Linked DNA regions of Homo sapiens. The protein of the gene in region 1 purifies or fractionates together with the protein of each later gene. This does not show direct contact. Each region holds a gene or a part of one and is shown in the gene's direction. Other genes may lie near its edges. The genes, in order: GSPT2, SRSF12 and CASC3.

What was found.
Region 2: the proteins of GSPT2 (region 1) and SRSF12 purify together in Homo sapiens (affinity purification with mass spectrometry; 2 studies listed by BioGRID and IntAct, with this or other methods). This does not show direct contact.
Region 3: the proteins of GSPT2 (region 1) and CASC3 purify together in Homo sapiens (affinity purification with mass spectrometry; 2 studies listed by BioGRID and IntAct, with this or other methods). This does not show direct contact.

Annotation. Positions count from the first base shown.
Region 1 is NC_000023.11:51,741,882-51,745,632, forward strand, and holds the start of GSPT2 (eukaryotic peptide chain release factor GTP-binding subunit ERF3B), read left to right. Parts: upstream 1-1,560; 5' UTR 1,561-1,745; coding exon 1,746-3,632; 3' UTR 3,633-3,751. UniProt on the Homo sapiens protein: GTPase component of the eRF1-eRF3-GTP ternary complex, a ternary complex that mediates translation termination in response to the termination codons UAA, UAG and UGA.
Region 2 is NC_000006.12:89,108,020-89,111,670, reverse strand, and holds part of SRSF12 (serine/arginine-rich splicing factor 12), read left to right. Parts: intron 1-3,651. UniProt on the Homo sapiens protein: Splicing factor that seems to antagonize SR proteins in pre-mRNA splicing regulation.
Region 3 is NC_000017.11:40,146,995-40,150,645, forward strand, and holds part of CASC3 (protein CASC3), read left to right. Parts: intron 1-3,651. UniProt on the Homo sapiens protein: Required for pre-mRNA splicing as component of the spliceosome. Core component of the splicing-dependent multiprotein exon junction complex (EJC) deposited at splice junctions on mRNAs.

The DNA of each region.
Region 1 (3,751 bases):
TATCCAACTATGAGGCCAGGCGTGGTGGCTCATGCCTGTAATCCCAGCACTTTGGGAGGCCGAGGCAGGTGGATCACCTGAGGTCAGGAGTTCAAGACCAGTCTGGCCAACATGGTGAAACCCTGTCTCTACTAAAAATATATATTAAGAAAAATTAGCTGAGCTTGGTGGCGGACGCCTGTAATCCCAGCTACTCAGGAAGCTGAGGCAGGAGAATTGCTTGAACCCAGGAGGCAGAAGTTGCAGTGAGCTGAGATCATGCCACTGCACTCCAGCCTGGGCAACAAAAGTGAAACTTTGTCTCAAAATAAAAAAATAAATCCATCTATGTGACACCATCTTGTACTAAGCAGATTGTTTGGACTGAATAGTCTTTCTAGGTATGTCACAAAACCTGAATTCATAAAAGCAAAAGGTGACAGATTTGAGTACATGAAGACTAAAAACAGATTCAGAGAATAAGTTTGTATTTTCTATGTCAGTTTGCACTAAATTAATTTACAAACAAGGTCGCTGAGGCTTTGACTCAACTGTTAACACTTTCTGAGAGTGAGATTCTTTTGATTAGGGTCTTAAGGTCTTTGTTCATCTCAGAAGTCTTAATTGGTTTAATTAGGCTGACACCTACAGCCCTGTCTCATTACCATAAACTGTAGAGGGGTTCAACATGACACTGATTGTTTCTTAGAGCAAAGCCAGTGCAGTGAGTAGGATTCCAGGCCCCCCGGAATGAAGCAGGAAAACCCGAGGCCTGTGGATGCAGGATGTACTAGGGAGGTGCTGGGGAGTAGTGCAGATAAACCCAGAATTCAGTTGGTTGGTAAAACAAGAGTGATCTGAGTCCTGTGCTTGTCTACGTGATCCACCATTGAATGGCAGGCCAGCCATTGTGCAGGCATCTGCATATGAAGTGACTGGAAGCTTCACTGGAACAAGGATCTCCTTGGAAATTCTCTCCCCTCAGACAGCCAGGGTGCTTAACATGAAAAGAAGTTGTAACCCTATCCTTAAACTATAGAAGCCATCAGCAGAAGTTACAGGCTTATGGGGGCCCACTGGAAAGGGAAAATCAAAAGGCCTGTGGATTTCAAATTAATGAGTGATCTTAAGTTGCATTTCCTAAGTTCGGCTACAGACTCATATATTTCATGAGTCCCTCCCTACCCATTCCTTGCCTCTCCCTTCAGTTGCTGGGTTTCTGAATTTCTGTATAGTTAACCCTTATCTTGCCTCCCATTTGTTCAATAGAAATGATCACTTTTACTTGAATCTTTTGGTAGAATTGTATACCATGTGTTCCTGTCTAGGTTTAATCATCAGATTGTGGTCAAATTGCTCTGCCAGACTGTGTGAACAAAAAAGTGAATGGAAATTTTCGTTTTAAAAAATAATACTTTTGGACTTAGCCCGTGGCTAAGAAGAAGTAAGGAAGCCAAGCGTACGGATAGCAGCGAGGGGTCAATCCACGCCCGGCGTTGGGTCGGGGGTGGAGGAGTCGGAAGTGGTTGGGGTTTGGGGGAGGAGATCCGCTCACACACAAGAGGAGAGTGTTGAGCCGCCATATCTGCTGCTGCCGCCGCAGTTGCGAATGCAGCATCGGCGCTTAGCTGCCTCCGCGGTGCAGCTAAGGTTCGTGTCGCTACCCCTTGGCCCTTCGCTCTTGCTGCCTTAACCCCGCCGGCGGAGCCCGCTCTTCTGGCCTGTTGAGCCCGCTCCCTCACTGCCACACAGCAAGTTCCGAGACCATGGATTCGGGCAGCAGCAGCAGCGACTCGGCGCCCGATTGCTGGGACCAGGTGGACATGGAATCCCCGGGGTCGGCCCCGAGCGGGGATGGAGTCTCCTCTGCGGTGGCCGAGGCCCAGCGCGAGCCCCTCAGCTCGGCTTTCAGCCGTAAGCTCAACGTCAACGCCAAGCCCTTCGTGCCTAACGTACACGCCGCGGAGTTCGTGCCGTCCTTCCTGCGGGGCCCGACTCAGCCGCCCACCCTCCCGGCCGGCTCCGGCAGCAACGATGAAACCTGCACCGGCGCGGGATACCCTCAAGGTAAAAGGATGGGACGGGGGGCACCTGTGGAACCTTCCCGAGAGGAACCGTTAGTGTCGCTTGAAGGTTCCAATTCAGCCGTTACCATGGAACTTTCAGAACCTGTTGTAGAAAATGGAGAGGTGGAAATGGCCCTAGAAGAATCATGGGAGCACAGTAAAGAAGTAAGTGAAGCCGAGCCTGGGGGTGGTTCCTCGGGAGATTCAGGGCCCCCAGAAGAAAGTGGCCAGGAAATGATGGAGGAAAAAGAGGAAATAAGAAAATCCAAATCTGTGATCGTACCCTCAGGTGCACCTAAGAAAGAACACGTAAATGTAGTATTCATTGGCCATGTAGACGCTGGCAAGTCAACCATCGGAGGACAGATAATGTTTTTGACTGGAATGGTTGACAAAAGAACACTGGAGAAATATGAAAGAGAAGCTAAGGAAAAAAACAGAGAAACCTGGTATTTGTCCTGGGCCTTAGATACAAATCAGGAGGAACGAGACAAGGGTAAAACAGTCGAAGTGGGTCGTGCCTATTTTGAAACAGAAAGGAAACATTTCACAATTTTAGATGCCCCTGGCCACAAGAGTTTTGTCCCAAATATGATTGGTGGTGCTTCTCAAGCTGATTTGGCTGTGCTGGTCATCTCTGCCAGGAAAGGAGAGTTTGAAACTGGATTTGAAAAAGGTGGACAGACAAGAGAACATGCGATGTTGGCAAAAACGGCAGGGGTAAAACATTTAATAGTGCTTATTAATAAGATGGATGATCCCACAGTAAATTGGAGCATCGAGAGATATGAAGAATGTAAAGAAAAACTGGTGCCCTTTTTGAAAAAAGTAGGCTTCAGTCCAAAAAAGGACATTCACTTTATGCCCTGCTCAGGACTGACCGGAGCAAATATTAAAGAGCAGTCAGATTTCTGCCCTTGGTACACTGGATTACCATTTATTCCGTATTTGGATAACTTGCCAAACTTCAACAGATCAATTGATGGACCAATAAGACTGCCAATTGTGGATAAGTACAAAGATATGGGCACTGTGGTCCTGGGAAAGCTGGAATCCGGGTCCATTTTTAAAGGCCAGCAGCTCGTGATGATGCCAAACAAGCACAATGTAGAAGTTCTTGGAATACTTTCTGATGATACTGAAACTGATTTTGTAGCCCCAGGTGAAAACCTCAAAATCAGACTGAAGGGAATTGAAGAAGAAGAGATTCTTCCAGGATTCATACTTTGTGATCCTAGTAACCTCTGCCATTCTGGACGCACGTTTGATGTTCAGATAGTGATTATTGAGCACAAATCCATCATCTGCCCAGGTTATAATGCGGTGCTGCACATTCATACTTGTATTGAGGAAGTTGAGATAACAGCGTTAATCTCCTTGGTAGACAAAAAATCAGGAGAAAAAAGTAAGACACGACCCCGCTTCGTGAAACAAGATCAAGTATGCATTGCTCGTTTAAGGACAGCAGGAACCATCTGCCTCGAGACGTTCAAAGATTTTCCTCAGATGGGTCGTTTTACTTTAAGAGATGAGGGTAAGACCATTGCAATTGGAAAAGTTCTGAAATTGGTCCCAGAGAAGGACTAAGCAATTTTCTTGATGCCTCTGCAAGATACTGTGAGGAGAATTGACAGCAAAAGTTCACCACCTACTCTTATTTACTGCCCATTGATTGACTTTTCTTCATATTTTGCAAAGAGAAATTT
Region 2 (3,651 bases), on another chromosome or scaffold:
TATTGCAGGTCCTAACCAGTGCAACAAGGCAAGAAAAAAGATATAAAATACAAAAATTGGAAAGATAAAAGTAACCATTCTTAGGTGACATATTTGCTTACATAGAAAATACTAGGGAATGAACAAAAAAACTGCTAGAACTAATAAGTTTAGTAAGTTATGAGGATATAAGGTAAATTTACAAAAACTTTATTTCTATATATTAACAGCAAACAATTGAAAACAATGACAATTTTAAAAAACAGTTGCATTTACCATAGCATCAAAAGGCATACTTACTTAGGAAAACAGTTAACAAAAAATGTGCAGAACCTTTGCACCAAAAACTACAACATATTTTCAAGAGGAATTTTAAAAGCTAGCATAACAAAACCCCATCTCTACTAATAATAGAATAAACAAGGTGTGCTGGCACATGCCTGTAATCCCAGCTACTTGGGAGGTTGAGGCACGAGAATAGCTTGAACCTGGGAAGTGGAGGCTGCAGTGACCCGAGATTGTGCCACAGTACTCCAGTCTGGGTGACAAAGCAAGATTCCATCTCCAAAAAAAAAAAAAAAAGACAAGTCTCACCCTGTCTTCCCAGACTGGAGTGCAGTAGCATGATCATAGCTCAGTGCAGTCTCAAACTCCTGGGCTCAAGTGATTCTTCTTCCTCAGCCTCCTAAGTAGCTGGGATTATAGACACCACGCCCAGCTAATTTTTTTTTATTTTTTGTAGAGATGGGGGTCTCACTATGTTGCTCAGGCTGATCTTGAACTCCTGGGCTCAAGTAGTCCTCCCACCTTGGCCTCCCAAACTGCTGGTATTGCAGGTATCAGCCACCATGCCTGGGCAACAGTGGGAATTCTAACACATGTTTTTGGAAATGTAAGTTGGTTGGGCCACTCTGAAGAACATGTAGTGAAGCTAAGGTAGGCATACCCTCCAGCCTACCAATTTCTTTGCTAGTGATACTGAAGCAGGAGAATAGGGTCTGGAGGCAGGGAACCTAAGGCCGATTCACAGTGACTTCCTAGAACTGAATCAAAAGGAGAACTCCACCTCTCTACACCCAAGTAACAAAAGGATCAGAGGCTACTCCCTTTGCACTGTATTACAGATAAAAAATGGAAAGTACCTCTGACTGGTCCCCTCCTACAACCAATCAGACTGGTCCCAGGCCAAGTCTTCATGTGTAACTTTGTAGCTTTGCTTCAGCCTCTAATTGGTCGCCTCCCTCCACCAGACTGGTGGTGGGCCAAGTCTTCATTTACATAGGGTGTAACCGAGTAACCAGTGGGAAACCTTAGAGGGTATTTAAACCCTAGAAAATTCTGTAACCAATGCACTTGAGTGGCTTGCTTGAGCCTGCTCCCACTCTGTGGAGTATCTTTTCATTTCAATAAATCTGTGCTTTCATTGCTTCATTTTTTCATTGCTTTGTGCATTTTGTCCAATTCTTTGTTAAAAATGCCAAGAACCTGGAGGACTCATAGGCAAGACCCTCCATTGGTAACAGAAGGATATAATATTTCTTTAAAAATACTGAAAATTATGGCAAGTATGTCAAATACGGAGAAAATAATTTTTTTTTTTTGAGACAGAGTCTTGCTCTGTTGCCCAGGCTGGAGTGCAGTGGCATGATCTTGGCTCACTGCAAGCTCCGCCTCCTGGGTTCACACCATTCTCCTGCCTCAGCCTCCTGAGTAGCTGGGACTACAGGCGCCCGCCACCACGCCCAGTTAATTTTTTGTATTTTTAGTAGAGATGGGGTTTCACCCTCTTAGCCAAGATGGTCTCGATCTCCTGACCTCGTAATCCGCCCACCTCGGCCTCCCAAAGTGCTGGGATTACAAGCGTGAGCCACCGCGCCCGGCCAGAAAATAAATCTTGTTGGTAGATACATGGGTGTTTATTATTCTCTGTACTTTTTTGAATATTGAAGTAGATCATACCAAAAGTGCAAAAATAAAACAACAGCTAACAGGTGAGGGAGTGGAGACAGTGAATGGGAATTGGCTCTTTTGAAAAGACCTGTTCCATCTGACTCCCATCACCCTTGGCTTCCAGACTCCAGACCTCTGTGGCACACAGTGCTGCAGCCTCCTCTTTTATATTATCTATGATCCCTTTCCTCTTAGCCACTACATTTGGTTGATGGGATTGGTTGTCTCAGAAGACCTTCATTTGAATCCTAGCTCTACTACTGGCTGTGTAGATCTCTGGGCAAGGTAACTTCTCTCACCCTCAGTCTCCTTAACTCTTAAATGGTAACAGTAATGTATTCTTTTTTCATTGATAGGCAAATATATATTGAGTACCTACTGTGTGCCCAGCAGCTACATTAGGTACAGAGATATGCTGGTGAAGACACCTGCTTTAGCAGTGATTCTTAACCTTCAGTCTCAGAATTGCCTGTGAAGTCCTGAAAAAATTAAACATAACTGGGCCTCACTATGGAAAACACTAATTAGGTCCAGAATTAATGCATCGGGTTGGGGTGCCTCTGTCTGTAACATCCCTTCACAGATGATTACAGTACTCAGGAGAGGTTGAGAATCTTTATGCCAGTCTATGGTCTGTGGGAGCAGGAATTGTGTTTTTCTTGTTTCTCATTATATTCCTAGAGCCTGGCACATGGTAGGTGCTCAATAAGTATTTGCTTAATTCTGAATAAGTAAAAGAAAAAAGACATTGTCACTGTCCTCAGAAACTAATAGTAAAACATGTTCTATGAGTGTTAAATGAAATAAAGTATGTCATAATGTTGACTGAGCTACTGGCAAAAAGTAGATGCTTAGTCAATTTTTGTTGAATCTTATATGTAATTTCTAAATCCCCATCTCTAGCCTTAGTCACTGGCTTCTAATAATTATATTAATACACACTAATTAATATGCATATAATCACAATTTTCTGTTGCTTATAGAACTCTTATCAGTGTTCTACCATCACCTCAAATACTGCATTTCTAAACCTGAAAGTTGCTTCTTTTGCCTCTTTTCTTCCTCCTTGATCTAGCTCTCTTCTAATTTTTGTCACTGACACCATCTTTTTTCCATTTGTCCAAGCTAGAAGCTTCTTAGTCATCTTTGAATCTTTATTTCTCCCGAGCCACATTTTATGATCATAGCTTGATGCTGAATCCCTATGATAGCACCATGAAGCAGTAGGGTGTAGTGGTTAAGATGGACCAGTATGAGACTGAAAATTTGATTTCTAGCTTTGTCACTTGCTGGCTCAGTGAGCTTAGATAGGTTACTCTGTCTGTATCACCTGTAATCTGCCTGTATTACCTGTAAATAACCTGAAATTCTGTCTGTATCACCCATAATCTGTCTGTATCATCTGTAAATAACCACAGGGAAATTGTAAGAATTAAGTGGTTGTAAGGTGAACACTGGCTAACATATAAATGCACTGTAACTGTTAGCTATTATTGCTAAATATTTTGTCTCTTCAGTTAAATTGTAGCTCCATGAAGATGAATATCATGCTGTTTCTTTTTTTTGGTACCCCTTCTGAAGCACCTAATCGCACTAGAAGGCACATAAGCAGGCTCGAAATACCTGTCAGATTTGGGAATACAGTAGTTACTTTGTTTTATGTTTAATATTAAAACATCCATTTTTCTTTAAAGCCTGATAAATAATTTTAGGACTTCTTTA
Region 3 (3,651 bases), on another chromosome or scaffold:
AAACGTTGGAGAAACTGACAGGCAATATGGAGTGTTCATTGAGTTTTGGGGATTGTGAATTTATAGCAGCTTACCATTCTATATGTAAGGGAGTTTGGATGTTTTCCTAATGGCTAGGAAAGAAGTACCACTGAAGGCTTAAATGTGGGGGATGAATTGTGGGTGAGGCACAAAGGAAGACTAGAGGCAGAAGAGCTGTTTAGAGGTTGTTAGGATAGTCCAAGGAGCATGACGATGGTGCCCCTAAAGAAGGTTCATACTTGTTGGAATGGCAAGATGTGGGACAGATTAGAGAGAGATTCTAGTGTACTAACAACCCCTTCATTGATTGAATGTGGAACCTAAATTAAGGAGTCAAAGGAGGCCAGGTACCTTGGCTCATGCCTGTAATCACAGCATTTTGGGAGGCTGAGGCAGGTGGATTGCTTGAGCCCAGGAGCCTGAGACCCACCTGGGCAACATGGAAAAATCCTGTCTCTACAAAAGAAAAGTAGAAAAAAAAATTATCCGGTCTTGGTGGCGCAGGCCTGTGGTCCCAGCTACTGAGGAGGTTCAGGCAGGAGGATCATCTAAGCCCAGGGAGGTCAAAGCAGTAGAGCTGTGATCACTCCACAGCACTCCAGCCTGGACAACAAAGTGAGACCCTGACTCAGAAAAAGAAAAAGGAGTCAAAGGAATGTGCAGGTTGATGAATGGTGTTGAATGGTGTTAACTGTTAAGGAAGGGACCCCAGGAGAAGAGTTCTGGAAGGACAGTTGTGGGTTAGGTTTTGGATGTTTTGAGATCGAGAAGGTGTGGGACTTTTAGGTGGTGATACCTGGTAAATAGTTTTTGATTCCTAATTGCTCATACCTTTCTGAGTTCTCATTTCATTTTTGAGTTTTTCCAATTCTGATTGATGTTCTTTCATGCCTTATATAATTTTCTTAATGTCTTTTTAGCTTATTTTGAAATAGAAGTTGCAATTTTGATATGATATGCGGATGTCTTTCTGGCATGCTTTCATTGTCTGTAGGAATGCTATTATTTTTTCTTATTATAACTTTATGGGATTTAACTTCTGTATTTTCTGTTCATTTTTATGTAAAATTAGTTTTCCTGGTCTTTTCGAAGGAAGCATGATTTAGAATAGCTTTTTCTAACTTCACAGAGCTGCTTCTGTTGTTTTTCTGTGGTGGTGAGAAATATGGTGGCTTGCTTTCTGAGATTTGTTGCTTTTGTTCCCTTTCCCAGCTTGTTCTGGACCATCCCTGTCCTACTGAATTTGGTCCTGCTCTCAACAGTTTCTCTTCTAGGAACTCCCTTCTAGGGACAGTGTAGGGCCCTGTCCCCAGAAGGAAGCCCTGGCAGCCAGGTCAGCTTCATCCCTTCAGACCTTTTTTTTTTTTAAGACAGAGTCTCACTCTGTCGCCCAGACTGGAGTGCAGTGGCGCAATCTCAGCTAACTGCAATCTCCGTCTCCTGGGTTCAAGCGATTCTCCTGCCTTAGCCTCCTGAGTAGCTGGGACCTCGTGTGTCACCGTGCCCAGCTAATTTTTGTATTTTTAGTAGAGATGAGGTTTCACCATGTTTTCCAGGCTGGTCTCGAACTCCTGACTCAGATGATCCACCCACCTTGGCCTCCCAAAGTGATGGGATTACAGGCATGAGCCACCGTGTGTGGCCCCCTTGCTAGTTGTAAGTGCTGTTCTCAGTTTTGACTGTTGTGCTTTCCCTTGACTGCCTGTTGATTATTTCAGTGTTCTCCTGTTCTCAGGTCCATTTGCTTTCTCTCTGCTTTCTCCTGCGTGGACACCAGTACTATACAGGTCCTACAGCTGTTGGTGCTTTGTTATGCACTTACATTTTGGGTCTTGGGGGATACCTGGTAACTTAACTTTGTTGCAGTGTTGTCTGAAGGTTTTGGTTTCTTTTTTATTTTTTGAGACAGAGTCTTGCTGTCGCCCAGGCTGGAGTGCAGTGGCTTTGCCTTCCAGATTCAAGCTATTCTTGTGCCTCAGCCTCCTGCGTAGCTGGGATTACAGGTGCGTGCCACCATGCCTGGCTAATTTTTGCATTTTTAGTAGAGACGCGGTTTTACCATGTTGGCCAGGCTGGTCTCGAACTCCTGGTCTCAGGTGATCCACCCACCTCGGCTTCCCAAAGTGTTGGGATTATGGACGTGAGCCACTGTGTCTGGCCAGGGTTTTGGTTTGGGTCTCGGTTTTGCTGTCCAGAGCTCTCATTCCATGTGGAGATTTGAAGAGAGATAAAACTGTGCCACTGCCATTTTCTGAGAGTCTTCCAAGAATTCTTTTTTTTTTTTTTTTGGCAAATGGGTCTCCTTATTTTGCCCAAGCTGAGCTTGAACTTGAACTTACAATCCTCATCAGCCTCTTGAATAGCTGAGACAATAGGTTCATGCCACTGTGCCTGGCCAAAAAAACTTGTTAAAGAAATTTGACTGAGGGAAGGCTGAAGAGATGGTAGTTGGAGAGGTAGCTTTGAGATCAAGAGGTGATTTGGATGTTTTTTAAAAAGTTAGGAGAGTATCAAATAAGGTCAAAGATTGAAAAAAAGAAAAGAAAGGGGGAAAAAAGAGAGGGAATAGATAATGATATTGAGTACTGGTATTTTTGACTGAGTATATGAGAAAAAGTAGGAACCAGACAAGATTAACATCTTCCATTGTAATTACAGAGAAGTGGGAAGGAAAGGTATGTGCAAAGGAAGATTAGAAAGGAGGGAAAAGCTGGGTGCGGTGGCTCACGCCTGTAATCCCGGCACTTTGGGAGGCCGAGGCGGGCAGATCACGAGGTCAGGAGATCGAGACCATCCTGGCTAACATGGTGAAACCCCGTCTCTACTAAAAATACAAAAAATTAGCCGGGCATGGTGGCGGGCACTTGAGCCTGGGCGACAGAGCGAGACTCCGTCTCAAAAAAAAGGGAAAAAAAAGAGGGAATAGATAATAATATTAAGTACTGGTATTCTTGACTAAGTACATGAGAAGATGTAGGAACCAGATGAGAAGTATCTTCCATTGTAATTACAAAGAAGTGGGAAGGAAAGGAAGTTAGCGTTCCTTTCTGTGTTTTGTTTTTGTGAAATAGAAGGATAGAGCAGGACAGGCACGGTGGCTCACACCTGTAATCCAAGCACTTTGGGAGGCCAAGGCAGGAGGATTGCTTGAGCCCAGGAATTTGAGACCAATCTGGGCAACAAAGTGAGACCCTCTCTCTACAAAAAATCAACCTGGCGCAGTGATGTGTGCTTATGTCCCAGCTACTTGGGAGCTTGGAGTGGGAGGATCCCTTGAGCCCAGGAGGTCGAGGCCACAGCAAGCTATGATTGCACCACTGCACTCCACCCTGGGTAACAGTGTGAGACTCTCGAAAAAAACAAAAGAATGACATCTGCTTCAAAAAGTAAGAGTGTGTGCGTGTGTGTGTGTGTGTGTGTGTGTGTGTGTAACCCCCTTTGGCAATGGAGTAGTCTGTTGTAGGCCTGGAGAAAGCAGACATTTGAATTGATCCAGTTCCAGGCATATGGGAGTGGCAAGAGAAATGGGATGTTACTAGTAGTGATTGAAATGAATGAGCTATGGAGTCTAGAGAGAGAAGAAAGTGAATGTGAGAAAGGACTGATAGGCAGAAGTTAGAAGCATCAAGG